Linked DNA regions of Homo sapiens. The protein of the gene in region 2 interacts with the protein of the main gene of each other region in a biochemical or structural test. Each region holds a gene or a part of one and is shown on either strand. Other genes may lie near its edges.

Region 1 (4,226 bases), on a different chromosome or scaffold from region 2:
TTCCATGGCTCTCCCTGCTTCAGGAGCGGGTTGGGGGCCTGTGGCCTGGAGGAGGAGGCACCAGCTTGGTTTGGGGTCTTCCTGCCTGGGCTTCCCTTCCCAGCTCTGCCCAGCGTGAGCCTGGGCCAGTCCAGTGCCCACTCCAGGGGCCTGTGGATGGCTCTGCATGCCACTCCATGGTTGTAAGGGCTGAGGGCATATAGGGGGGAGAGAGAGACCCCCGGCTGCCCCCACGGCCTCTTCAACAAGGTGGTTAAGTGACTCCTCCTCGATCCTCCCTTGCCCAGCTCCCTCCACCGCTGCAGCTCATTCCGGAGGTGCAGAAGCCCCTGCATGAGCAGCTGTGGTACCACGGGGCCATCCCGAGGGCAGAGGTGGCTGAGCTGCTGGTGCACTCTGGGGACTTCCTGGTGCGGGAGAGCCAGGGCAAGCAGGAGTACGTGCTGTCGGTGCTGTGGGATGGTCTGCCCCGGCACTTCATCATCCAGTCCTTGGATGTGAGTGGGGCTGGGACCCGAGCCTTCCAGGCCTCACTCTTCCCCTCCCTTCCCTTCCCCAAGGGAAATGGCCTTTCAGGGTAGGGGGTAGCTGCCAGGTCTTGGATGCCTCCCTAGCAGGGCTGGCTGGAAGGGGCCACAGAGACCACCCTGTCCCTGCAACAAAATAGAGGCTTAAGTGTGAGTCCTCCCCTGGTGGGGCAGCAGGATGTCATGTGCCATCAGATGGCATCTTTTCTGGAGGTCTCTCTGCCCCTGGTCCTGGGCAGGCCCTTTCTCCCCTGCTGCTCTCCCTTTCCCCCTCCCAGGGCTCACGCCCCCTCAGAATGGAGGCTGCTGACCCCGGGTCCCCTGCCCTGCAGAACCTGTACCGACTGGAAGGGGAAGGCTTTCCTAGCATTCCTTTGCTCATCGACCACCTACTGAGCACCCAGCAGCCCCTCACCAAGAAGAGTGGTGTTGTCCTGCACAGGGCTGTGCCCAAGGTGAGCCTGCACCCAGCCTGGCCCATGCCACCTGTGGCAGGGCTTGGGGAGTGTGGGTCAGGCCCACCCAGCGTCTGAGCAGAAAGGGCTTTCCAGGCCCTCCGTCTACATACAAGATGCAGAGTGAGTGACCCTCAGGGCCAGCCTTGCTCTAGGTTTGGAATGTCAGGGCCACTCCTATGCCATGGGCTGTACACACCAGGTTGGTGCTTACCTGGTCAGGGCACCTGCCTGGACCCCGTAGTCATCTCAGTGTGCTCCCCACGTGGTCCCACCCCTGGTCACATATGGAGGCGCCAAAAAATGGAGGACACAGCCCTTCTAAGGGCCCAGCACCCCTTTTCTTCAGACTTCTGATCCCCTGTCTCCTCTCTTCCCCAGGACAAGTGGGTGCTGAACCATGAGGACCTGGTGTTGGGTGAGCAGATTGGACGGGTGAGTGCGCCTCTGCTGGCCTCCTTGTCGCTGGCGACTTCTCCTGAGTCGCGCCTGGGCCCCCTGCCCTACCACCCAGAGACCTCCCTGCCCCATCTGATTCCCCACTTGTACCCCGACTCCCTGCCCAGCCCCCACCACACACCATCCTCCAGGAAACGGGACAGTACCTACCCTGAAAACTCCCAGCAGACAGCTCTGCCAGCACCCTGACCTCATCACCCCCACCCAGGCCGCCCCCATCGAGCTCTTGTGTGCACGCAGGGAGACACCCTGTTACTGTAAGCCATAAGATACCTGTTTAGGGAAGAAGTCACTGTCCTAAAAATCAGAATGCTTTTCAAACCCAAGGGAGAGTGATTTTTGGATTTCCATGTCACTTCTCTCAGGAAGGGTGGCACATCGGAGGCAACTTTCCCTGCCTGCCCCATGTGCTCTCTAGGTTCCCCAGCGAGGGTCAAACTCCCAGAGAGCCTGGGTGAGGGGTCCGAACACGGGGGCCCCTCACCCAGGGGTAGGAAGCAGAATGGGTAGGAAGCGGAGAAGAGAACTGCGGGACTGGGAAGGCCGTGGTAGGAGCCCAAGACCGTTTCAGGGGAACTTTGGCGAAGTGTTCAGCGGACGCCTGCGAGCCGACAACACCCTGGTGGCGGTGAAGTCTTGTCGAGAGACGCTCCCACCTGACCTCAAGGCCAAGTTTCTACAGGAAGCGAGGTGGGTGATAAACTAATGATCACCACGGGTCCCGCATACACAGAGGTTACACTGCATGGCACAGTGTGAAGTGCTTGACCACCGTGGTGGTGTTTAGTCCTCGAGGCCCCCCATTGCGGGTAGTACCCCCTTATAGTGCCGAAGGGTAGAGGCTGCCCCAGGTCACACGTCCGGGTCTGCTGGCCTTGGAGGCCAAGCTCTTCTCCCATCATCCCTGGGGGGCCCTGGGGAGGCGGGCCTGGCCACGTAGATCCTGAGCAGCAGTGCCCTCCAGGATCCTGAAGCAGTACAGCCACCCCAACATCGTGCGTCTCATTGGTGTCTGCACCCAGAAGCAGCCCATCTACATCGTCATGGAGCTTGTGCAGGGTGAGCGCGGGGCGCTGAGCTCCAGGTAGGGCGCGCAGCCTGGTCAGGTGGCAGCCTTACCTCAGGAGGCTCAGCAGGGGTCCTCCCCACCTGCAGGGGGCGACTTCCTGACCTTCCTCCGCACGGAGGGGGCCCGCCTGCGGGTGAAGACTCTGCTGCAGATGGTGGGGGATGCAGCTGCTGGCATGGAGTACCTGGAGAGCAAGTGCTGCATCCACCGGTGAGTGGGCGGTGGCCACGGGCCCTGCCAACACCCCCGACCAGAGTCAAGAGGTACCTATACCCCTAGGGCCCCCCGCTGGACCATCAGGCATCAGCTCCAGAGGGGGAGTTGGCCTCTGTGGTAGACAGGGGTGCCCAGGGCCGGGAGCAGCTTTTGTCCTTGGCTTTCCTAGAGTGTTCAGCCAGGGCTGGGCAGGCGACTGTTGGCCAAATGAGCCCCTGCCCTGTCTCACCCAGGGACCTGGCTGCTCGGAACTGCCTGGTGACAGAGAAGAATGTCCTGAAGATCAGTGACTTTGGGATGTCCCGAGAGGAAGCCGATGGGGTCTATGCAGCCTCAGGGGGCCTCAGACAAGTCCCCGTGAAGTGGACCGCACCTGAGGCCCTTAACTACGGTACCTAGTCCCTGTCTACCCTGGACTCCATGGCCAGAGGCCAGGCCTGGGTCCTGCCGGCTGCCTCGCCCTGGCCCCAGGGAGGGTGCACTCACGCTGCCTCACCTCCTCGCCTCCTCTGCAGGCCGCTACTCCTCCGAAAGCGACGTGTGGAGCTTTGGCATCTTGCTCTGGGAGACCTTCAGCCTGGGGGCCTCCCCCTATCCCAACCTCAGCAATCAGCAGACACGGGAGTTTGTGGAGAAGGGTAAGCACCCTGTGATGACAGCAGCCTCAGGCTGCACCCTCTTCCAGATGCTCCAGCCGGACTCTTCTAACTCCCTTAATGCCAACCTTCCCACCAGGCAGAATAAGAATAACCTGGCCAGTTGCTCACGCCTGTCATCCCAGCACTTTGGGAGGCTGAGCTGGGTGGATCACTTGAGCCCAGGAGTTCAAGATCAGCTTGGACAACACAGTGAAACTCCATCTGTACAAAAAATACAAAAATAGACTGGGCACGGTGGCTCACACCTGTAATCCCAGCACTTTGGGAGGCCGAGGCAGGTGGATCACCTGTGGTCAGGAGTTTGAGACCAGCCAGACCAACATGGTGAAACCCCATCTCTACTAAAAATACAAAAATTAGCCAGGCATGGTGGCACGTGCCTGTAATCCCAGCTACTTGGGAGGCTGAGGTGGGAGAATTGCTTGAACCCAGGAGGCGGAGGCTGCAGTGAGCCGAGATTGTGCCACTGCACTCCAGCCTGGGCGACAAGAGTGAAACTCCATCTCAAAAAAAACCAAAAAACAAAAAATACAAAAATTAGCTGGGTGTGGTGACATGCGCCTGTAGTCCCTGCTACTCGGGAGGCTGAGGTGGGAGGATCACTGGAGCCCGGGAGGTGGAGGTTGCAGTGAGCTGAGATCATGCCACTGCACCCCAACCTGGGTGACAGAGAGAGAGAGAGACCTTGACTCGAAAAAGAAAAAAACCTGGGCGCAGTGGCTCACGCCTGTAATTTCAACATTTTGGGAGGCTGAGGAAGGTGGATCACTTGAGTCTAGGAGTTTGACACTAGCCTGGCCAACATGGCAAAACCTGTCTCTACTAAAAATACAAAAAATTA
Region 2 (4,226 bases):
TTATTTCCCAGATCATCCATTGCATTCGATATCAGTGAGAAGGCTAAAGGAAACGAAAGATGGTTTTATGTTTTTGACGGACCAGTCCTACATTGATGTTTTACCTGAGTTCAGAGATTCTTACCCCATTAAGTATGTCCATGCCTTTGAAAGCAACAATTTTATTTACTTCTTGACGGTCCAAAGGGAAACTCTAGATGCTCAGACTTTTCACACAAGAATAATCAGGTTCTGTTCCATAAACTCTGGATTGCATTCCTACATGGAAATGCCTCTGGAGTGTATTCTCACAGAAAAGAGAAAAAAGAGATCCACAAAGAAGGAAGTGTTTAATATACTTCAGGCTGCGTATGTCAGCAAGCCTGGGGCCCAGCTTGCTAGACAAATAGGAGCCAGCCTGAATGATGACATTCTTTTCGGGGTGTTCGCACAAAGCAAGCCAGATTCTGCCGAACCAATGGATCGATCTGCCATGTGTGCATTCCCTATCAAATATGTCAACGACTTCTTCAACAAGATCGTCAACAAAAACAATGTGAGATGTCTCCAGCATTTTTACGGACCCAATCATGAGCACTGCTTTAATAGGGTAAGTCACATCAGTTCCCCACTTATAAACTGTGAGGTATAAATTAGAAATAAGTATCAGTCTCAAAAAGAATATCCAGGGCTTCTTTTGTGCTTTGTAAATGGTGTTTATCCAAAATAGTTGCAGATTTTTTCCAAGAAAATTGAGGAATTGAATCTTCATTTACACCTAAAATTATATCTTTAAAATGTAAATGGTAACTAAAAGAAAAATGTTTTTACAATTCAGATTTGCATGTTCGTGACATTTCAGATTATATTAAAGTTATTTCCCATATAAGCTTTTTTATATTTACACAGATTTTATCAGATTTACACAGATTTTATCAGATTTACACAGATTTTTATCACAGCAGCAATTCCCATAAAACATAATTATTGACATTTCTATATAATCTCTGCAACATTTACAAGATGTTCAAGCTAATTTGTATGCCTTAAAGAATTGTTCCTTATGAGATTATATTCTCTCACTGATACACAACTGATTAATCTATATTCTTGACATTACTTAAAGGAACTTAACTTTAAAAAACCTCTTCTGAAATGCTGGTAAATAAAACATTTTTAAATGAGCTCGTATACTTCTCTAAATAACCTGTAAGAGTAGAGAGGAAATGTTTGTTCCCAAGTCCTTCCTTTAGAGCTTGACTTTAATCATGGACTTCCTTCTGGAAAAGACTTGTGTCTACCAAGTTCTAGCTTGGCACTTTACCTGGTTGGTATTTGTTATTTATAAGCATAAATATTTTGGTTGATGATTATTTATACTTATATGAAATGGTATTTTCTTAGGAGCTGTTAGAGATATTCTTGGTGCTGTGATTTAAATATAGTAACAGCTACCAGCTATACCTGGAGATTTATCCTGCTAGTCAGTTGATCACCTGGTCTGAGTGTTTATTGTGGCTTTGAGTTTCTTGATCTGGGCCAGATTTGGAATACGGACCTGACTATGACCATCATTGAATGAACAAATAGTATAGCTTTTCTAAAGACAGTTTGACTTTGGCATGGTATGTTTCACTTACTTTAACAGGTTTCAATCTAAGATATAAAGGTTATAATTGCAATCAGGTAGAACATTAAACATGTCCTCAGTAGCATAAAGTATATAATTTGCTGAGGGGTAAAGGCATATGAATTCAGAGACATTTGGTTGACTTTTGCTGAAATGTCTGGGACACTTCTCTAGATGGAAACTATAGTTAACTTTTTATGATGCTAGGAAAATACTTCCAAGAAAGTCAGTTCATCTTTTGGTGAACTAAAAACAAAACTTCCTTCCTCTCTCTTCCAAAGTCTATGAATATACATAACATAAATGCACATACATTCCAACTAAGACTTATTTCCCCCTACATACATTTAATATATGTTGCAAAGAAGCAATAGAATTCCTTATGAAGCTCCCCCTTTTCTTTACTAGAAACTACAAAAGAATGAAAGGAAACAAAATGATTTTCAGAAACCTGGGATTAGGAAATAAAAATATAATATTAATAGCATTACAGAGAAGATATTTTTCTGCATCCAGTAAGTTGATTCTGAGACACAAGTTTTAAAAGAGTCTATTAGGAATTCCTCCAGGGCTCCTAGAGCACATGGATTTGCTATTTAAATCTTTCTTTGTTAAAAATTAAAAAGAAGGGTAGGGCAAGAAAAAAATTAAAAAGAGAATTCATAAAGGTATATTGATATCTCATTTTTTAAATTTTGTACATTTCAATCCTTAGATGTAAAAATACTTATCAATTCTAGAAATTCTCAAAACACATCTGAATTTTATCCTACCCTTTTGACTTTTTTAGTGTTCCAAGGGAGACAAACAGACAGGATTAGCCAATGAAATTCAGGTCAGTTTTATCGCCCAGGAAAAATTCCCAAAATGCACTAGCCACACCTGAAACCATTATCACTCCCATCACAAAAATTCTTGCGGGAAACAAGATGGAACTTGCCAACATAGTCTTCTTACAAAGGAAGCCAACTTTTACACTGGCCAAATTCCATAGACAAATACCTTCAAACCTCCTCTATTTATTTGCCTGTTTATCTTCTCTGGTTACAAAGATCAAAATTCTTCTGAGACTGAGACTACACATATTCTCTCTCTCCATATACCCCATCCAGACCTCAGATTGTTCCAATAATGAGCATATAATCATTTCCTAGCTTAATGCCAAAATGAAGGCACCTAGAGCCATTCATCACACACAAAAAAAACAAAATGATTACAAGATCAAAGCTGTTTAGCAGGACTCTCAAGCAATAAGATGACTCCATTTTGTCTTGGCAGATTTACTTGGCCAGAAATCAAGTGACCCTTTTAATAATTTCTTGGAACTGAGTTTTTACTTTGGCATCAAGTTTGGTGAAAAGACACACATATTGTAGTTTTGTTATTAACATCTCTAATACATTTATAAAGGGACTCTTGTGGACAAGGTTAAGAAAGCTGAGCTGCAGCAGTAACTTTCTACTTATGCTTCTGCCCAGTCCTCAGTGTTGACACATTGCTGAAAGAGGGATTTCCTGGCACTCCAAGAGCTCTCCACCATGTGCAAAAAGTGTTTCTATCACAAGATCAGATAATGGGAGTGCCAGGGACGGGCCTTTTACATTTTAGGGGTCCAGCAGGTGTACCAGGCCTGACTTGCTTGTTTAGGATCACATATTTTGTTGCTTTTCCCAGTCTCACATTTCATGAAATATGTCTATGCAAACTCTTCACATGCATCTTCTCATATTGATGACATCACAAAAGCCCTCTTTTGAGTCATTTGATAATTCCCAGTACTCGTCATCTTCACCCATAAGCTATTTGTGCTTCAGAACTCTTTGTCTCCACATATGATGCTGTTTCTGGAAACTTATCCCAAGCCACAAATGCCCACTTATAGAATACCAGTGTTGTTGACTATGTCAGTTGTTCTATAAGAATATATTCTTGATCCTCACAATGTGTCCATTTTTTATGTTGCTTTTGAAAGTGATTCTAAAGAATTTGTTTACAGTGACTTCCAATATTGAGTACTATGAGATTATACACCCACAAATAATTACTAAATCTGTTTAATATCTTTACCTCCTCCTTTACCCATTCATCAATCAACCTCTATAAGCATCCTAAATTAGTATTGATTGAAGTTGTTTTAGGCTAATGCATATTCTCTAAATAGCATATTATTATTCAAAATAAAATAATTGAGAAAATTGTCCCATAATATGGATGGAACCTTTGTAAAGGCCCATATGTAGGGAGAAAAAACCCTCATCTCTATTTGAGGATAAGCAGTAGCAAAAATTTCATTAACTTGTTTAAAATTAAGTGGAATTTAATTTTAAGACTGTGGAATCTCTAACAGTCTTTTACATATAAGGGATTGATTAATGTGACAATTTCAGGAAAAAAAGGAGAATCAGTACACATTGGCCCAATCTCCTACAAATGAGAATCAATACAGAATAAGAGAATTTTTTAAATCCCCAAATCAGCAAAGATCCTGTTCCCTAAGTTATAGAATATTTATTAAAACAAGTGAAATCGTACATTTTAGAAAAAATTTTAATCAAAGTTGAAATTAGAAAAGCATTCTTGAAATAGCTCTCGCCTCTCAGAAAATACAATTAGCACA
Region 3 (4,226 bases), on a different chromosome or scaffold from region 2:
TATTCCACCTTAGATTGATTTGGGGGGTGTTTGTTTTTGTTGTTGTTGTTTGAGACAAGGTCTCACTCTGTTGCCCAGGCTGGAGTGCAATGGTTTGATCTCAGCTCACTACATCCTCCGCCTCCCGGGTTCAAGCAACTCTCCCACCTCAGCCTCCCGAGTAGCTAGGACTACAGGTGTGCACCACCACGCCCTGCTAATTTTTGTATTTTTTTGATAGAGACAGGGTTTCATCATGTTGGCCAGGCTGGTCTCAAACTCTGGACCTCAAGTGATCTGCCTGCCTTGGCCTCCCAAAGTGTTGGGATTACAAGCATAAACCACTGCACCTGGCCTGTTTTTTTGTTTTGTTTTATTTTGTTTTTGTTTGTTTGAGATAGGGTCTCGCTCTGCCTCCCAGGCTGGAGTGCAGTGGTGTAATCATGGCTCACTGCAGCCTCCACTTCCCCAGCTCAGGCAATCCTCCCACCTCAGCCTCCCAAGTAGTTGGGACCACAGGTGTGCACCACCACGCCTGGCTAATTTTGGTTTTTGTAGAGATGGGTTTTTACCATGTTGTCTAGGCTGGTCTCAACCTCCTGAGCTCAAGCAATCTGCCTGCCTCAGCCTCCCAAAGTGCTGGGATTACAGGCATGAGTGACCATGCCTGGCTCTACCTTTTATGTTAAAGTTTATATAAATTATTTCATTTTAAGATTCTTTTATTCCTGCCATTTCTGTGGTGCAATTGGATTTTTACATAAAGTTAAATAATACTTTTTATTTTGGCCAGGCGTGGTGGCTCACACCTGTAATCCCAGCACTTTGGGAGGCCAAGGTGGGAGGATTGCTTGAGGTCAGGGGTTCGAGACCAGCCTGGCCAACATGGTGAAACCCCATCTCTACCAAAAATACAAAAATTAGCTGGGCATGGTGGCAGGCACCTGTAATCCCAGCTACTCAGAAGGCTGAGGCAGGAGAATTGCTTGAACCCAGGAGATCTCAGCAGTGAGCTGAGACTGCCGCTGCACTCCAGCTTGGACGACAGAGTGAAAAAAATTAAAAATTAAATGATACTTTTAATTTTATTTACTATTTTATTTGAATAAATAAAAGGATCCTTTAAAAAGTATTACACACGAAAATAGGGTCAAAAGTCATAGCCCATTTTCTTGATTTTATTTGGTGCTTTATGGGAAAGGCTAAACTCTCTCTCTTTTTTTTTTTTTTAACACATTAGCATGGAAAGGAATCATTTCTACTTTGTGGTGTCTGTCTGTCTGTCTATCTGATGGGCTCTCTGGCACCTGCCAGCACACTGGGGGAAGTGTGAGGTCAAGATAGGCATCTTGTAGATGAAGAGCATGGCGTCCTGGTAAACGTTTAACAACCAGCTTTCCAGGAAACAAATGTATTGTATACATACATAAGTTTATAGTAACATGTACTGATATAAAGGATGCGTAGCACTTAATTTACAAATAATAACAAAATATGCAATAGTCTCTGTCCTAAATACCGCAGAGGTGATTGAGTCTCATAGAAAGCTCTCGTGACTTTGCACTGTCATATCCGTAGCCAAGCATTGGTTGCAGCAGATGAGCAAGTGTGGTGTTGGCACAAACACTGAAATGTTCATTCATGTTAAGGAGCAGATCAAAGTGAAACAACAAAGAGTTGGGGCAGGCTGCAGCCTTAGTGCCATGAGCGGCTTCTTTGTTGAACTGGGTAGTAGTTTTTCAATATTCAGAAAAGTTTCCTCAATGTTTTGTGCTACTCACAGTGTTCTAGCTACAGACAAGATGCTCTTTTAAGCATAGAAAATCCATGAAACAAATCACTGCCGACCTGTAGCATTTGCCTGTTCCTGTTGTATAAATACTCCCACCAGGGCCAATTTCAAGTTGCTAACATGACTTGCGTGAACATGGGTTCGAGATGCGCAGCAGCACAGCACGATAGAGTACTTCCGCCTTATAGACACAGTCAGTTAAAGAACCTCAAAGCATAGCTATTATTAAGATGCAGTAAAAATAATCAGGAAGTGATGAGGTTTAAGTATTTATAACCTTTGTTTTAATAGAATCCATTTAGTTGTATCTTGTATAATTCAACTTTAATTTTTTATCATTTTAATTTTATATAGTTTTTTTTTCTTTTTCTTTCTTTTTTATTTTTCTTTGAGAAGGAGTCTTACTCTGTTGCCCAGGCTGCAGTGCAGTGGCACGATCTCTGGTCACTGCAACTTCCACCTCCTGGGTTTAAGGGATTCTCCTGCCTCATCCTCCCAATTAGCTGGGATTACAGGCACCCGCCACCATGCCTGGCTAATTTTTGTATTTTAAGTAGAGTTAGCCAGGCTGGTCTTGAACTCCTGACCTCAAGTGATCTGCCCAGTTCGGCCTCCCAAACTGCTGGGATTACAGACATGAGCCACCACGCCCGGCCCGTATAGTTTTTATACCTTAATCTTGCATAATGATTTGAATAATTCAGCTCACAAAATTCCTGAGAATTTAACAACCGGCTCTAGCATACCGGCACAAGCTGGCCCCCAGTGCATCACTGACGGGGAGGCCGAGTGTCTTGAGGCCACACTGCAGATCAGGGTCCTGCCTGCAGCCAAGTGGGGACAAGTGGAGAATAACTTGCCTCCTGGGCTCTCCTGAGTCCCGAGCCTGACAGCGGAGGCCCAGGTGGGTGACCCTGCTTTGTGCTCGGTGGCAGGGGAAGGGGGGTGGGCCTGTGGGCCTGGATGGAGAACCTGTCCCCATGGCTGTCATGTCCCTACACCAGCTGCTGCCAGCCACTGTGGGGTTCGCAAGTCCCCACTCGCAAAACGGCTACTGTTTTCCACAACCATGGGATACAAGGATGTCCCCTTGGGCTCCTTCTCATCTCTACTCTCTGCTGGCCTCTTTGCACAGATTGATACCTGGGATGCTGAGCCAGGACCAGAGGGAGGTAAAGACACACCTGGGGTGCAAAACTGAAGGAGGCCCTGATGCTTGAGGTTGTTCAAGTGCAGAGAATGTTTGTGTATGTGTGAAGCACACAACCACACGTAGCATCTAAAAGGACATTTGATGTTCTGCACTTAATAGATTAAGCTGGTTCTGACCTTCTAGCCCCTGGGCTTCTGATGAGTCTCCTGGTAGCCTGTCAGCTCCTGATCTTGGATGGGAGCTTGTGTGTAGGTGGGCACTCTTCTGCAAAGTGCGTTTATGGCTTTTATCTGGTTTCCTCTGATCAGAAAGATCTGGGGGTGCTGGCACACCCAGACGACTAGTAACTCCCAAAGGGAGAGGTGCAGCTTTGTCACCTGCCCCTGTGTCAGGTGGGACGTGAGATGCTCTATTTTTTTCTGCTCCATCCTGTGCCCAAGCCTTATACAGGGTGACCCTTTTCAGAGAGGCCTTTGCCACCAGGTCAGTGTGAGCATGTGGCTGGGTGATTTCCTGCCGTGGACCAGGGATCTGTGTGCTGTCTGAAGTAAGCAAGGGTGCTCTTTCTTGGCAAGGTCTGAGGGCTGAGACTTGCAAGGAGACACCTGCTCTCTTGGTCACCAGACTGGAGGTTCCTATGTGCAGGTGTGGAGGATGGAAGAGGTCACTCTGTCCTCTTTCTTGCCTGGGCCTCACCTCTGCTGAGGCTGCTGGCTGCCCTGGGCTCGCAGTGAAAGGGGCCATCTTCCACCCTCCCCTGCTGGTCAAGTGCATCTTTCCAGGTTCCGGCACTCCACGTTGCCACCCAGACAAGTGTCCTGTGGGAACTAGCAAGTGGGAATCAAAACTACCCCCAGAGAGGCTCCTGGCCGGGAGATGAAGGGATCTACCCTGGGGCTAAAGTCTCCCCAGCCTTTCTTGGAGCTTAGGTCCTGGCTTTAGAAAGATCCCATTCACATCCAGGCACAGTGGCACACACCTGTAATCTCAGTACTTTGGGAGGCCGAGGCAGGCGGATCACTTGAGGTCAGGAGTTTGAGACTGGTCTGGCCAACATGGCGAAACTGTCTCTACTCAAAATGCAAAAATTAGCTGGGTGTGGTGGTGTGCGACTGTAATCCCAGCTACTCAGGAGGCTGAGGTAGGAGAATTGCTTGAACCCAAGGAGGCAAAGGTTGCAGTGAGCTGAGATCGCACCATTGCACTCCAGCTTGAGCAACAGAGCGAGATTCCATCTCAAAATAAAGAAAGGAAGGGAGGAAGGAAGGAAGGAAGGAAGGAAGAAAGAAAAGAAAAGAAAAG
Region 4 (4,226 bases), on a different chromosome or scaffold from region 2:
AGTGGAGTTATTGTTTGTATTTATTTTGTTGGGAAATGTGAAAGATGTAAGTATGTAGTCCTCTGTGTGAATACACACACACACACACACACACACACACACATCTTAACAATGCTAGGACTTAGTTGTAGAAACATTTAGGTTAGAAAGAAGGTAAGGGCATCTAGAGATGGTATCAAAACTCCATACTTAACATTTTTGGAAAGAGTAGTGAAAATAGATCACTACTTTATTTCATAGATGTAGAAACAAGTGGAAAATAAGCTGTATATAATCTATACTGTATACTATACTATACTGTTATACTTTTAAGGATAAAATAATAAATCTTTCTCCAGATTGGTATCTATTAATATAAACCCTTCCCAGTGCAGCCTGTTCCTTAACCAGCTGCTCATAGGCCGATTCTCCAAGCGCTGTTCAAGGCAGCAGCTGACCAGCCACAGAAATTCCCTTAATCCGTGTTGGATAGTGGAGGTGACCTAGCAGCTGCTTAAGTGACAGACTGGCAACAGTTCCTTGATGTGATTTTTCTTAGGTCATTCAGTAAATTCAAGAGTAGAGAGGAAGGCTTTCTAGGGTCCTCACTACCCACCCAGGGATTGATGACTGATTGCTTCATGGTCATTGGATTCCTCACTGCAAGGTGTCCTGGGATTTTGTGGTTCATGGACCAATATAATTAGCATCATCTGGAAATTTGTGATGATCTGTGATCATCAGAGTCACCCCAGATCTACTGAATCAGAATCTGCATTTTGATGAAATCCCCAGGTGATTTGATGGAACATTTAATTCTGGGAAACACTGCTCTAGGACAAAGAAAGCTCAGTTTAAAAAGATTGTCACATGAACTTTACCATAGAATTTCAAGAATATTGCAAAAGGATTAATGATAACCTGAAATACATTTCCTTGGATTTATATTTCTTTTTCCTTTCTTTTTCTTTTTCTTTATTTCTTTCTTTCTTTCTTTCTTTTTTTTTTTTTGGAGATGGAGTCTTGCCCTGTCACCCAAGCTGGAGTGCAGTGGCACGATCTCGGCTCACTGAAACTTCTGCCTCCTGGGTTCAAGAGATTCTCCTGCTTCAGGCTTCCAAGTAGCTGGGATTACAGGTGCGCCACCATGCCCAGCTAATTTTTGTATTTTTAGTCAAGATGGGGTTTTACCATGTTGCCCAGGCTGGTCACGAACTCCTGAGCTGAAGTGATATTCCTGTTTTAGCCTTCTAAAATGCTGGGATTACAGGTGTGAGCCACCATGCCCGGCCCCTGGAGTATATTTCTGATCAATATTTACTTGATTATTATTTAATATTCCAGACACATCAAAACAACAGTACTATACAAGCTTTTTAAAAGAATGCTCAGATGACTTTGAAAAAAAATATTTTCATAAGAGACTAAAAGTAAGACTAGTTTTGGTTATGAATATTTTGTATAAGAATATTTAAAGATAAACATACTCTTCAAGGAACCAAACATGCTATATGCAAATCATTTTTAGCATAATGTTATGTTGATACAGGAAATACTATTCCCTCTGACATTACTAGTAGCAGTCTCTTGCTTTATAATTCTCTTTTTCATCTAAGTGTAATTTAAGATCTTTGTAGTAAGGAGCTCATTTATAGGACAGTCAAATTTAATGAATGGGAGTTGGTAGGTAGAATGCATTAAATATAACTGGTGTTCTTTTTATTATCTTTTGTGCTCATATTTAAGAACAGAGATTCTTGTCAGTTTTCTCAAGAGAAAAATTATGATGTAATAGACAGTGTACACTATTCATGTCAAAACACAATTTTACTTGCATTTTATAGCTTGCTTTAGCATTCTTTTAGAAAATGAATTTTCCCAGAAGACCTAATTGCCTTCTTATTAATGAGCCTGTAAGTGTTTTTTGTTATCCATTTACTATTCTAAATGTGTCTACTTGTGCTAGCTGTTTCAACAGTGTTGTCTCTGATTAAATCACAACTGCTATATTTGTTTTTGCCATTCACTAGTGATTCAGAAAATATTGGCATAATGACGTGGTTATGGCAGAGACTAATAAAAAACAAGAAGTAAAAATTAATGTTCACCCATTACAGTTGGCTGTATCATGAGATCAGAAGCTGGAGTTTGGGATAATAGCAACGTTCTCTATATTTTTGATACTGTAAATAAAAGTCTGCATAACCTATATTGTCTTAAATATAAAATATATAATTTATTGAATTAATGAACTGTAAATCAGTGTATTTCCATATGTACTTAATTTAGACACTAATGTTTAAAGAAAGATTTAATAGGAGACTGATCACTGTTAGAGGAGAAGTAGTGGTGGAGAGACTCTGAGAGGGCACTTTCGTATATCTTCAAGAACTTCACAGTTACTTTTTCTAGTTTGACTCCAAATTCTGGAACTTGTCTTTTTTACTAGTACTGCTTTTATTCTTATGAGCAATAATTAGGTTCATTTATTTTCTTATATGTTGGAGAAGAGAGCTTTTCCTAAAGCAATTGCAAAAATAACAATATGAGCTGTAATTTACTGAGAGCCCATGACCTGCTAGGGCCTGTGATCAGTGTTTTACATAATTTTAAATCCTCACAATATCCTTTAAGATGAGGATCATCTCCATTTTACAAACTAAGGCCTCGAGGGGTTAAGTAATAACTTGTCCCAAGTGGCTATATGAGTCACTGGTAGAGTCAAGATTCGTTAATGAATGTACACAAATGTTTAAAGATTAGACATTTCTTTGGTTGCATCTTGGCAGAAAATGTAACCCAGACTGGTTGCAACAAAAGGTGAATTTATTTGTCTCTCCTAACTACAGTTCAGGTGGAGCTTGATTTAGAAGTTGACGTAATTCCACTGAGACATGATGTTTCTCTGCCTGCTTAGTTTAGTTCTAGGGTATTCCAGGAGCTTCTTAGGCTCCATATAGAGGCACGATGGCTGTGGCAGCTCCCACCGAACAAGATCCCAGGTTCAAGTCCCTTAAGGAAATGTGAATTATCTGCTGGTTGCACCTGATAAGGCTCTAAGGTTTACAGTGCTTGAATCCACTGATCTTGTTTCCAACCATTGAATCTAAGGCTCTGACTGAGGGGAAGTTAGTGTGCTGATTGGCTTGGCCCAGGGTTTGTAATCTTTCTAATGGGGAAGAAAGAAGATGGGAGATGATGGGGAAGAGACAGTAGGATCAGATTGTTCTCTGTTGTGGACCACTAGGTGATCTCTAAGTGGGAAAGCGTGGAAGAGAAAGAGAGGAAAGAGGCAATTTGTGTCTGGCAGGCTTGTATACATTTACAGATCACCTGTTTTTAATCTGAGAGTGTTTATTTATTGGCTTTCCCTTTAAGGACTACTTTAAAGCATGAATTTATATTATTTCCATTATTTTATTTTCCTTGTCTCAGTATTGAATTAGTCTAACATTAAAAATTTGTAGAATTTGGTGTTAAAAAAGATCTTAGAAATTAATGACCCCTTCATTTGACGTAAGTTGCCCAAAGTCATACAGGTAGGAAGAACTTGAGCTCAAATTAAAGATTTTAATGTATAGGTTAGTGTTCTTACTATATATGTATCATATATTAATGTATACTATATATATATCATTTTCCTTAACAGTAATCTATATAATTATTATTTAAGATTAAAAAATTTTTGGCTTGTATTCCAAATTTCTGAAACAATATTTCCAAATATAAACCTGACTTAGTGATTGGATTTGATTAGAATAGTAGTCTGCATATAAGGTGATAATATGTCTGTGAATGCAAGAGACTATCTTAGATAACTGCTTGGTTTTCAGATATCATGACAGAATTTATACATGTATGCATGTATAGGTGTTTGCATGTATGCATTTATTTATTTTTAATAGAAAGCAAAGGGTAAAGTAAGCTGTGGTAAATGATATTGACACAGACAAAACCTACTAACTCTACTATTTTTGAAAACCTCAAGAGATGATGGTGATTTTATTTTTAATTTTGATCCTCTAACCTCTGCTGCCTAAATTTATTATGTATATCTGAGCAACATGGGATATTAGGAAGAGTTGCTATAAGAAATATCTTGGGGTACTGAATAATGAATAAAATGTAGAGAAGTAGCAGCTGTTTGCCTAGCTACCTCCTCTCCTAATGAGAGATTTACCCAGGCTGTCTTAATCACATGTTAGTGCTAGTGGATTTGACTGAGGACCATGGCTGTGCCAGTTGAG
Region 5 (4,226 bases), on a different chromosome or scaffold from region 2:
GGATGAGGCCACTAAGGAAATAAAAAAGCAATAAATAGTTTGTAAAAAATCAAAATTAATTTTTTCAACAACAGAAGTTTTTCCAGAATATACAGAGAGCTCTTTCAGCTGCAAAATAAGGACTAAAACAGCTCAATTGAAAATGGACAAACATTTTTAATATATACTTCACAAAAGAGGATACACAGGTGGTTAATAAGCACATTAAATGATGCTCAGCATCATTAGTTAACTGAGAAATACAAATTAAAACAACACTGAGATGATAATACTATACATCCATTAAAATGGCTAAACTTAAGAATACGGATACTACTAACTATTGGTCAGGATGTGCAGCCATGACCCAGGAATTTCACTCCAGGTATTTACCAAAGAGGAAACATGACAAAGCAGATGCATTCATAGTAGCCAAAACCTGGAAACAGCCCAAATGTGTATTCACTGTTGAATCCTAGGTAAAATGTGGTGTATCTTTACAATAACTACTGATAATTTTTTAAAATTCTAACTATGACACATGCAACTAAGTGAATGAATCTTCAGAACATTACATTGAGTGCAATATGTTAGGAGTGAAAAAGTACTTACTGTTTGTTTCATTTTATTTACATGCAATGGGTAAAAAGACAAACTTAATCTGTAGTTAACAGAAAGTTGATCAGAAGGTACGTGAGTCTGGTCAAAGGAGCTGAGTTGACTGGGAAGTACCACAGAAGGACATTTTGGGATCACAGAAATTTTCTTTATCTTGATTGTGGTGTTGGTTATGTGGATGTATACATTTGTTAAAAATGCATTAAACTGTATCTCAAATGGGTACATTTTAATGTAAATTTTACTTCAGACATTTTATTTAAACATTTATCAGTTTTTCTCAGTTTCAAATGACTAGTTACTGGAAGCAATGACAAGTGCTACTCAATGACTGCTAAATTTATTGGTGCTATGAATGCCAGATTTTTAGCACAGCAAAATCTACAAATTCCAGGATTTTTAGGTAGTATCTGGGCAAGAATATATATGAATAATGTATATGAAAGGAAGAGGGGGTTCTTAGATATCTTCAAGTCAGTGGAATGCTTAGGTTTCACAGTGCCAATCTGGTGTGACATTTACTTTGTTAAAGGAATTTACTCTAAAACAAATTAAATGAGCCCAGATGCATTTCTTTAAATTTTATTTTGAATTCATCATTTGTCAAAATATGGTTATCAATAATGCATGCTTATAATATGAAGAATGCTTTATCCATGTCTTATTTTTCATATTACATAACATTCTTATTCTTTTAACAGGTCCAGGAGAGCCTCAGATTATTTTTTGTAGAAGTGAAGCTGCACATCAAGGAGTAATTACCTGGAATCCCCCTCAAAGATCATTTCATAATTTTACCCTCTGTTATATAAAAGAGACAGGTAATTTGTGTAGAATTTAATTTCATCAGAAAAGAGAAATCAAGAATTTGAAAGTACTAGAAATTTTTATTGAGCCAGTGAGTCACAAAGCTCTCTGCTTAGAGACTGCATAGGCATAGTATACTCCCTGATCTTAGAATTGCTTCCACTCATTCAAAGCTTTCCAGCCCCAGAAATGACTAAAATCCAGAACATTCTAAATATTTGCTTGTCCTTCTTGGTCTTAGTTTAAATCTTTGTGCTCCAAAGCCTAGAGACAGAAAACCTCTGGATGACAACACTCATTTCTGTCTTGCAAGTATTATGTAAGTGATTTGACTCACTTTGAACTCATCATTCAGCCTCCTAAACAAACCAACAAACAAGCAAACCCCTTGTAAAACTTGTTTCAGCTAATAATACAGACAAAATGTTGGGTGAATAAAAATGAACATGGGCCCATGTAGCCGCTGGGGCCAGTTTGGTGTAATCTTGGGAGCATAGTTCTAAGTTTAGAATTAGACTTCTGCAGAAGTAATGCAATTAAAAAAAAAAAGAAGAAGAAAGAAATGTGCTATGACTAGTTCACTCATGAAATGTTCAAATGAGATGCTATTTAAGAGAACAAATATCTTCTGGACAATTTAAAGTATCTAAATTGTTTGTAGAAAGTAACATCAGTGGAGTATCTCAGAGCAGCCTCAATGCCTGGGATAGCCCTTTCTCTATTCTTTTATCCATAGGTTAAAATAGGAATGAAGTGAACCTCATAGAATTCTGTCACTCTGTGCTGTGGGGAAGGAACCAGACATACACTTCAAAACTTGAAAAGTGAAAGGCTATTTTTCTTCATTATGTTATTTTATATTTTAATGGCCTTTTCTTGCTAGTGTCTTTAGGTCTTAATAATCAGACTACTAAAGCAAAGTTAAATATGCATGTAGTTTTCAAATTAACATTCAAAGGCCAAGGAAAATAAATATATACTATATATTTGAGGTTATGATAAATTTAAAAGTTAAGTCTATGTGGAAGGAAAAATGGAAATTCCAGGAAGATAAAACAGCAGAGGTACTGTCTGCCTCATTGGACACCTCTTTTACAAACACTTTGTGTAGCTTCTATGGGAACACATTGTTCATTTTTTTTTTCTCTTCTCTGAATCTTCTATTCACTATCCCTTTCTGCATTCCTCAATGTCTACACTCTCTCTACTAGAGAGTATTGTCGATGTCAGAGTATATGGTAGACATTTTATGCATTTATGGCTCTTTTATATTTTTACAGTTTTTTTAAACTGTATTTCCACTGTATTTGCATAATTAGGGTAAAAAGGATGTAATGAGTTAGTAGCAACTCATTACAGCAACTAGCATGGGTCCTTCTTATTGGGCAACTAAATAGTGTTACCCAAATTTAACAGCTGTCCACATAGAACACTTAAACGGGATTGAATGGCTGAGAAGGGGAGGCTAGCTATCAGGCTGTGTGTTTTCTTTTCTCCAAAGCTGCCGATTGGTGACTGAATGCAGCTTTGGACCATGCCCTGACACTGCATAAAGGGCTCTTTGGAGCCAGCTCTACTCTAAACAGCGTGCTCCGCTTTTGTTTTCTCCTTCATCTCAAACATATACCTGTCTCCTCTCCCATGTTACCTAAGGCAAAGAGAGTTGATAGGATTATAGTATCGTTAAGGCAACTTAACTTTTCTCACCATTTTAAATAAAATTACTATTAAAAATCCACAGGAAGAAAGTCTATGAAATTTGCAGTTTACTTTTTAATCAGATATTAAATTTCACTTCATTACTTCACAATTTAATTTTTTCAGTGTCTCTAAAAGAGAGGGATTAAAAGAGGAGAAAAAATGCAATTGACATTAATTTAGTTTTATTGGTTTAGCAGGTTTTTTTAATTATGTATTATTTAAAGATTTTATCAACTATTTTAATAACTCAGTGGAGATGTGCATACATATCTTCATAGTTCATATGATGAAACTGAGGTTAACAGAAAATGTGATAGATGTTCAAGTTCAGTAGCTTGATCTGTTTCCTTTCTGCTCTTGGTTTTGTTTGTTTGTTTGTTTGAGAGGGAGTCTCCCTCTGTCGCCCAGGCTGGAGTGCAGTCATGCGATCTCGGCTCACTGCAAGCTCCGCCTCCCAGGTTCACGCCATTCTCCCGCCTCAGCCTCCCTAGTAGCTGGGACTACAGGCGCCCGCCACCACGCCCGGCTAATTTTTTTGTATTTTTAGTAGAGACGGGGTTTCACTGTGTTAGCCAGGATAGTCTGGATCTCCTGATCTCGTGTGATCCGATCCGCCCGCCTCGGCCTCCCAAAGTGTGTTTGTTTATTTTTCCTCACATTTTTAGCTTAAGATATTTTGGAGAACTGCAGTTTTATCTCGTTAACTTAATGATGGCAAGTGACAGTGAAGCTTCTTGGTAATTGGGGAATTGGGGAAGAGATCTTTTGTGCTTTATTGGATTTAAAGGATTATTTTTCAAAAGTTACTGAAAGCAATAGGCACCTTTCAAGACCACCATGATGTTGCTGGAAATTATTTTGTGTAATGCCTTTTATTTTTTTAAGAAAAAAAAAACAGAACAAATTGCTTAATCTCTCTGTGGCTCAGTTTTGTCATCTGTAAAATCAGATGATAGTGAGTACCAACTAATAGTTGCAGTGATGGTTAAATTAATTATTTCATGTATACCCCTTGAAACAGTGCTTGGCACATACAGTGAGTTATTATTTTTAAAAATCGTTATTGATATTATTATTACTGTTGCTGCTATCCAGAAACATGTTGCCACTCTAATCATCCT
Region 6 (2,769 bases), on a different chromosome or scaffold from region 2:
TATGTGTAAAACCTGTACTACATCAGTTGAAACTCAGACTCACAGTTTAGAGCAGTAGTTCTCAATTGGGGGTGATTTTGCCCCCCAGGGGACATTTGGCCATGTCTGGAGACTTTTTTGCTTGTCACAACTGCAGATGGATGGCATCTAGAGGATACAAGCCAGAGATGCTGCTAAGCAAACTACACAGCACAAGACAGCCCTCAACACCATAGAATTATGTGGCCCAAAATGTCAGTAGTGCTCAGGTTGAGAAGCCCTGCTTTAGAGGATAGTATTCTCTGGTTATCTTCATTAACCAGATATTAACCAGATATTGGTTATCTTCATTAACCAATAATGATTGTTCATTAACAATCAGCACTGAGAATTGGTTCCAAGCTAACAGAGATCAAAAGGACATGAAGAAGGTATAGGTCTTGACTATAATAAATTCAAATGATTTTTTTTTTAGTTTTTTTAGATAACATTTATGCTATTGCTGTTTCTCTAGTGTGTTTTTCACAATTACCATTTTAATTGGTATTTCCACCTTATGTGAAATCACTAAACTGTTCTTTGGCTCAAACTGTCTTCCTCTTGTTTTTCAGGAACAATACCAGTTCATCTATAAAGCAATGCTTAGCTTGGTCAGCACTAAAGAAAATGGAAATGGTCCCATGACAGTAGACAAAAATGGTGCTGTTCTTATTGCAGATGAATCAGACCCTGCTGAGAGCATGGAGTCCCTAGTGTGACTGGAATCCTGAAAGGGCACTTAATTTGTAAACTTCTGAAGACTGAGAACTTTTTTGAGGCCTTTTTTGCCAGACTCTAGGTTATACAATAACCCAGTTACTTTTTTACACTGATAAAAGTTTTGATATTTATTTTTTGCCATTTTATGTCTTAATGGTATCCTACTGAGCATTTGCACCTCTGTTCATTTCACACAGTGAAACGCAATTTTACCTAGTTTGCACTATATGATCAGTGTTACTGCCTATAATCTTATACAACAGCAAACCCTGATGTGACATTCCATGACGACATACATGCTACTTTTTTTTAGTTCAATACAGTGAAGGTCTTTGTTATGACAGTGAATATTGCTTTTATTATTATTATTGCTGAAGTGGTTGCATTCTACTAGCAGGCAATGCTGTACTTTTCTTCAGTCCTCCTCTCCTTTTTATTTTAGGCACTGTTCAATACTGTATGCCTTCTGTATTTTAATGGAGTGGATAGCATTGTTTTCTTTTACAGACTAGCAGGCTACTGGGACCTAAAAAGGTCTGTTAATGTCATGGCCTTGAAACAGTTCCATTTATGCTGGTTAAGAGATCCCTTAAGAAGTTAGAAGGCTTAAGAACTGCTTCATGTGAACATCCCTTATTAGTTACAAAGTTATATTCACAGTTTTTTAAAAATGTGTCAAAATAAAGGATAACTCTGTATTACAGCTTTCACAGTAGCTATGTGGACAATGTGTTATTTCCATTTTGACTCTCTAAAATAGCTACATCCTAAAATCAGGGCTATCTTTAACAATAGCAAGATAGCAATATTATATACAACTCAGTTATGAGACCCTTTAGTTATTCTCCATTAATGCTTCTTAGTTTGTAATACCATACCTCACAGTAGGTAGAAGAATGAAAACTTCTGCAGGTGTGTAATTTTGAAACTAGTCCTCTAAAAATTCCCTATTACTCCTATAGCAATCTAATAAAAACTACCTACATAGTTACTGTTTTCTTTCCTTCTTTGCCAAATGTTTTATAATAAATCTCTTAATTACATACATTTTTCTACTTAAGATTAAATTGGAAATACTGTCTTAGCAAAAGTCTTGGGACTATCTAAACTCCCACACATAGATAAATCTGATTTGGAGAGAGAAATTTAAAATATTTAATTAAAGGTGATACCCACATTTTCAAGTTTTTAAAAGAGGGAGATGGCTTTGTATGCTTTTGTGTAGTTTAGAACAGATACACATTAGTAAAAGATACCAATAATCATTAGAGCTCAAGGAAGTTATTAGGTGCAGCCTCTGGAGCCATACTCACGCTGCAGTGCATAATGGGAAAATTAGGAGCATTAATAAGAAATTTCAGTAGTGTTTGTAAGGAAAATAAGCTACTTACTGAGATCTGTTTCTTCTATTGCATGTTTGCTTTTGAGGGACAGCTTCTGTCAAAAGTGAAATCATCACCAGAACTGGGCCTGTTAGGAAGAATAGGGTTTTATTTACTTTTTATGTCAATTAACTTCAACAAAAAGGCCACGCTGGCTGCTGTCATGCCATCTGGGTATGCATTAAACATTAATGATGATCAGCACTGAGGTTCTATTTATCTTGATTTGGCTTTCATAAAGTTTGTCAGAATGGTGCTGGAGGACCAGAAGTGCTAAGGAGAAAGAAGCTATGGGCCAAGTTAAAGAATTTGAATGCAAAGGCCAGGTCAATGGAGTTTTCATAAACTACATAATTTACCAGGGTTTATCTCATCTTCTCAATACATAGATTTAACAACATGGAATACTCTGCTTTTCAAGAGCTGCGTAAGCTAGTCCTGAGATAAGATGTTCAAGAGAGCATGCTAAGTTGCATGTGCTAGATGAGAGACACCTTTACAGCCCCTCCGCTCCAACCAGAGGTGACACAGGAAGCTCTGTAAAGTTCAAGTAAAGCTTGAACACAGGAACACTACAACTGCCAGATGCTGAGGAGAATCAGGAAAGCAATGAGCTAGACTCTTTTTTTAGTCAATTAAGTGGGTTGTT
Region 7 (4,226 bases), on a different chromosome or scaffold from region 2:
AGTCAGCTGTCCTCTGAATTCCCAATCCCCAGCCCAACCCAGCTGGGGAGCCCAAGGAAGAAGCTAAGAGCCCTAAGTGCCCCCGAGCTTATTCCTTCTGCAGGGACAAGCCCTCCCAGGGAAGCTGCAGTGGCTGGGGCAGAGCGGACAAAAGCCCCAGTGGTGGGGGGTGTCCAAGATGAGGGTTTGGCAGGATTCATCTCTGCAGACCTGTGTGGCTCCACCTGGCCTCAGGGTGCCTTGGGGGCTGGAGGTGCTGCTGACCATGCCCTGTTCTGTGCCTACAGTGAAGGTGACTGGTGGGAGGCTCGGTCTCTCAGCTCCGGAAAAACTGGCTGCATTCCCAGCAACTACGTGGCCCCTGTTGACTCAATCCAAGCTGAAGAGTAAGTAGGGATTGGGGCAAGACCAGCCCTATGGACAGGACCCTGGAGTCCAGACTCCAAGGCCACCTCTTGGACAAGTCATTGCTCCAGTCCGAGCCTGTCTCCTTATCTAATAATTTTGTAAGGTCATTGTGAGAACAAAAGAAGATTGTACTGATAATAATAATAGTAGATAATAGAGCATGTACTATGTTCTGGGCACTATTCAAAGTACTGTCTGTGTATTAACGGGGTTAGAAATTACTACTATCCTATTTCACAAATGAGGAAGTTGAGGCACAGAGAAAGTAAATATCCTGTGCAAGTTCACATGGCTAGTGAGTGGTGGAGCTGATGTATGAACCCAGATAGTTGGGCTGCATTTGCTAAGCATTACACATATTGCCTCCCAGTAAAAACAACAGTGTATGAGCTTTAAAAAATTGTAAAGTGCTGAAAAAGTGCAAGGGAGCATTACTAGGAATTAATTCTATTAAGGAGGCAAGAATTTTTCTTTTTCTTTTTCTTTTTGTTTTTCTTTTCTTTTCTTTCTTTCTTTCTTTTTTTTTTTTTTTTTTTTTTTTTTTTGAGACAGGGTCCTACTCTGTTGCCTAGGCTAGAGTGTAGTGTAGTGGCACAATCTCGGCTCACCGCAGCTTTGACCTCCCTGGCTCAGATGATTCTTTCACCATGCCTGGCTAATATTTTTTTTTTTAAGTAGAGATGGTGTTTCGCCATATTGCCCAGGCTGGTCTTGAACTCCTGAGCTCAAGCCATCCGCCCATCTTGGCCTCCCAAAGTTCAGGGATTACAGCCATGAGCCACCGAGACCTGGCCCAAGAGGCAGGAATTTATCATTCATTGAATACCTTTATATACTTGAGCAAGTATACTACAGCAAGTATTTATCTCCTTGGTTCACTTAATTCTCACAATAACACCGTTATATTATTAGTTTTTTAAGAGACAGGGGCGTGCTCTGATGCCCAGGCTGGGGTACAGTGACATGATTTTAGCTTACTACAGCCTCAAACTCCTGAGCTCAAGTGATCCTCCCACCTCAGCCTCCTGAGTAGCTGATACTACCGGTGTGTGCCACCATGCCTGGCTAATTTTTGTATATTTTTTTATAGAAGCAGAATCTTGCTATGTTGCTCAGGCTGGTCTCAAACTTCTGAGCTCAAGCAGTCCTCTCACCTTGGCTTCCCAAAGTGCTGGGATTTCAGGCATGAGTCACCATGCCTGGCCTTGATATTATTATTTTAGACAGAGTCTTGCTCTGTTGCCCAGGTTGGAGGGCAGTGGCGTAATCTTGGCTCACTGCAACCTCCACCTCCTGAGTTCAAGCAATTCTCCTGCCTCAGCCTTCCAAGTACCTGGGACTACAGGTGCACGCCACCACACCTGGCTAATTTTTATAATTTTAGTAGAGACGGGGTTTCACGATGTTGGCCAGGCTGGTCTCAAACTCCTGACCTCAAGTGATCTTCCTGCCTCAGACTCCCAAAGTGCTGAGATTACAGGCATGAGCCACCGTGTCCGGCCCCTTGATATTATTATTGTTCCCATTTTACAGATGAGGAAACTGAGGCTCAAAAAGCTTTTAAAAATCTATCCTCACAAATGTCATACATATATGAGAAAAGAAGGGATTGAAGAGACTTTGCAGAGTGAGAATCCAGGACTCTGTGACTGATTTGGGTTATGGGGAGTGGGAGGAATCAAGGGTGGCTCAAAGTCTCCTTAAGGAGCTGGGTGGATGATGGCACCATTTGCTAAGGCGGGAAACACAGGAGCAGGTATAAGTTCATGAGTTCTAGGGGGTACTTGTTGGATTGTGGTTTGTGGAGAGGAACATCCAGGTGGACGAAGCTGCCAGCAATTCGATTAGGTTGTGCTTTGTATGGCAGGCAACCAGCCCATGCTAATCCATGCCCCTGAATCAGCCCAGAGGAAGGGACACCTTTTCTTAATTGCCACTAAAACTCCTCAGTTTGTTTGCTGTGGCCCTTGCAGAGGGCACAACGGGCTAGGGCAGAAATTTGGGACTCATGAGAGTAAAGATGATCATTAAGGCTATATAGGAGGGGGCTGGGGGCGGTGACACATGCATGTAATCCCAGCACTTTGGGAGGCCGAGGCGGGCGGATCACATGAGGTCAGGAGTTCAAGACCAGCCTGGCCAATGTGGTGAAACCTTATCTCTACTAAAAATACAAAAATTAGCCGGGTGTAGTGGCAGGCACCTGTAGTTCCAGCTACTCAGAAGGCTGAGGCAAGAGAATCACTTGAACCTGGGAGGTGGAGGTTGCAGTGAGCTGAGATCGAGCCACTGCACTCCAGCCTGGGTGACAGAGCAAGACTCCGTCTCAAAAAAAATTAATTAATTAAAAATTTTTAAAAAAGCTATATAGACGGTTAAGGAAGAGAGTGGAGAGTGCAAAAGGTTGGCCCTAGGACCCCACTTTGGGGAAAGCTGCCCTCGAAGGAGAAGGAGCCATTGGAGAAGAGAGGAAATCCAGACCAGGCCAAGTCAGAACAACCGAGAGAGCGGAGAAGCTTCAGGAAACAAGAGAGGGCGTGTCAGAGGCTACCGCTGGATTTGGCAGTGGGGGTGACCTTGGTGAGAGATTTCTCTGTGTGAGGGTGGGAGGCGGAGGCCAGACAGCAGAGCCTGGGAGGGAGTGGGAGGTGAGGAAGTGGAGACCCAAGTGTGAAGCACTTTTTCAAGTGAAGGGAAGGCGAGAAGATACAGCAGAATGTTGACGGCAAGATGGAACTTAGAATAGTTTCCTTTGGGGAAGGGAGAAATGTGGGCATGTTTGGAGGTTGTTGGAATAGAGAGGCTGCATGCAGGTGGAGGCTGCTGGCAGGAAGTGGGTATCACTGAGCAGGAGCGGGTAGGCGAGGTTCAGAGGTCAAGTGCGGTGAGGCCCAAGTCTGGGGAGGTGGTAGGAGGCGTGAAGAAGAGGACGGACAATTATGCAGAGGACAGGAGGTTTGTGGGGAGCTTCATGCTTGTGTCCACATCTTGGAGCCAGTGTCACCAAGCACTGAGAGGTGCTCAGTGCAGTGTTGTGGTTACGGGTAGTGTGGTTAGGAGCACAGGCCCTAAAGCAGACAGCCTGGGTTCCTGTTCTAGCAACTGCTGCCCTGACTGTCTAATGGGGTTTAACAATAGTAGCTATCTCACAACATTGTTAGGAGAATTAAGTGAATACATACGTGTATTAAGGCAGACCCTAACACGAAATATGTGTGTTATTATTATAGTGATTATTAAGGAGGTAGCTAATGTCATGCGTGTGGGAGCGGGGAGGGCTTTGAAAAAACTTGACAATGTGTCCTGTCTATACAGTCCCTCAACACTTCCTCCGTCCCCCTCCTGCCTGCCCTCCTGGACACACCACTTGCCAATGCCTTCCCCTGTTTCCTGAACTGTGCCTAGTACCCAGGGGCGGACTGACCTTCCCAGGGTCCACTGAGACTTCCACCACCCTTGGTTTGAAAACACGAGGCTCCTTTAATTCAACCCAAGATGGCCACAGGCCAGTTTCATGATCATCTGAGTCTTCTATGGCACCTGTGGTCACTTCAGCTCCCCCATTGTACCTGCACAGTTGGTTTAGGGCTACGGTTCAATCCCAGAAAGAATCCCCAAGGGAGAGGAGTGATTGAGGCCTGAGGTTGAAGTTTAGACTTAGGACAACATCCAAGTCTAAGAGAGTGCAGGAAGAGCAGTAGCCGGGGCGGGAGCAGCCAGAGAGAAGAGAAGCAGGAGACTGTGCTGCTCTGGAGGCCAAAGGAGGAAAGAGTTTGGAGGTGGAGGTGGGAGAAGGATCTGAGTGATCTGATTACTGG

The links.
Region 1: the proteins of MET (region 2) and FES form a complex in vitro, tested with the Homo sapiens proteins (one large-scale study listed by BioGRID and IntAct).
Region 3: the proteins of MET (region 2) and BLK form a complex in vitro, tested with the Homo sapiens proteins (one large-scale study listed by BioGRID and IntAct).
Region 4: of the proteins of MET (region 2) and PTPRK, one has a biochemical effect on the other in vitro, tested with the Homo sapiens proteins (one large-scale study listed by IntAct).
Region 5: of the proteins of MET (region 2) and PTPRC, one has a biochemical effect on the other in vitro, tested with the Homo sapiens proteins (one large-scale study listed by IntAct).
Region 6: of the proteins of MET (region 2) and PTPRG, one has a biochemical effect on the other in vitro, tested with the Homo sapiens proteins (one large-scale study listed by IntAct).
Region 7: the proteins of MET (region 2) and FGR form a complex in vitro, tested with the Homo sapiens proteins (one large-scale study listed by BioGRID and IntAct).

What each region holds. Positions count from the first base shown.
Region 1 is NC_000015.10:90,890,695-90,894,920, forward strand, and holds part of FES (tyrosine-protein kinase Fes/Fps), read left to right. Parts: intron 1-287; coding exon 288-497; intron 498-859; coding exon 860-982; intron 983-1,363; coding exon 1,364-1,417; intron 1,418-2,012; coding exon 2,013-2,131; intron 2,132-2,405; coding exon 2,406-2,500; intron 2,501-2,596; coding exon 2,597-2,720; intron 2,721-2,959; coding exon 2,960-3,117; intron 3,118-3,241; coding exon 3,242-3,364; intron 3,365-4,226. UniProt on the Homo sapiens protein: Tyrosine-protein kinase that acts downstream of cell surface receptors and plays a role in the regulation of the actin cytoskeleton, microtubule assembly, cell attachment and cell spreading.
Region 2 is NC_000007.14:116,699,696-116,703,921, forward strand, and holds part of MET (hepatocyte growth factor receptor isoform b preproprotein), read left to right. Parts: coding exon 1-589; intron 590-4,226. UniProt on the Homo sapiens protein: Receptor tyrosine kinase that transduces signals from the extracellular matrix into the cytoplasm by binding to hepatocyte growth factor/HGF ligand. Regulates many physiological processes including proliferation, scattering, morphogenesis and survival.
Region 3 is NC_000008.11:11,500,161-11,504,386, forward strand, and holds part of BLK (tyrosine-protein kinase Blk), read left to right. Parts: intron 1-4,226. UniProt on the Homo sapiens protein: Non-receptor tyrosine kinase involved in B-lymphocyte development, differentiation and signaling. B-cell receptor (BCR) signaling requires a tight regulation of several protein tyrosine kinases and phosphatases, and associated coreceptors.
Region 4 is NC_000006.12:128,510,248-128,514,473, reverse strand, and holds part of PTPRK (receptor-type tyrosine-protein phosphatase kappa isoform b precursor), read left to right. Parts: intron 1-4,226. UniProt on the Homo sapiens protein: Regulation of processes involving cell contact and adhesion such as growth control, tumor invasion, and metastasis. Negative regulator of EGFR signaling pathway. Forms complexes with beta-catenin and gamma-catenin/plakoglobin.
Region 5 is NC_000001.11:198,711,655-198,715,880, forward strand, and holds part of PTPRC (receptor-type tyrosine-protein phosphatase C isoform 1 precursor), read left to right. Parts: intron 1-1,298; coding exon 1,299-1,418; intron 1,419-4,226. UniProt on the Homo sapiens protein: Protein tyrosine-protein phosphatase required for T-cell activation through the antigen receptor. Acts as a positive regulator of T-cell coactivation upon binding to DPP4.
Region 6 is NC_000003.12:62,292,571-62,295,339, forward strand, and holds part of PTPRG (receptor-type tyrosine-protein phosphatase gamma isoform 1 precursor), read left to right. Parts: intron 1-43; exon of another isoform or gene 44-147; intron 148-590; coding exon 591-737; 3' UTR 738-2,769.
Region 7 is NC_000001.11:27,617,719-27,621,944, reverse strand, and holds part of FGR (tyrosine-protein kinase Fgr), read left to right. Parts: intron 1-287; coding exon 288-386; intron 387-4,226. UniProt on the Homo sapiens protein: Non-receptor tyrosine-protein kinase that transmits signals from cell surface receptors devoid of kinase activity and contributes to the regulation of immune responses, including neutrophil, monocyte, macrophage and mast cell functions, cytoskeleton remodeling in response to extracellular stimuli, phagocytosis, cell adhesion and migration.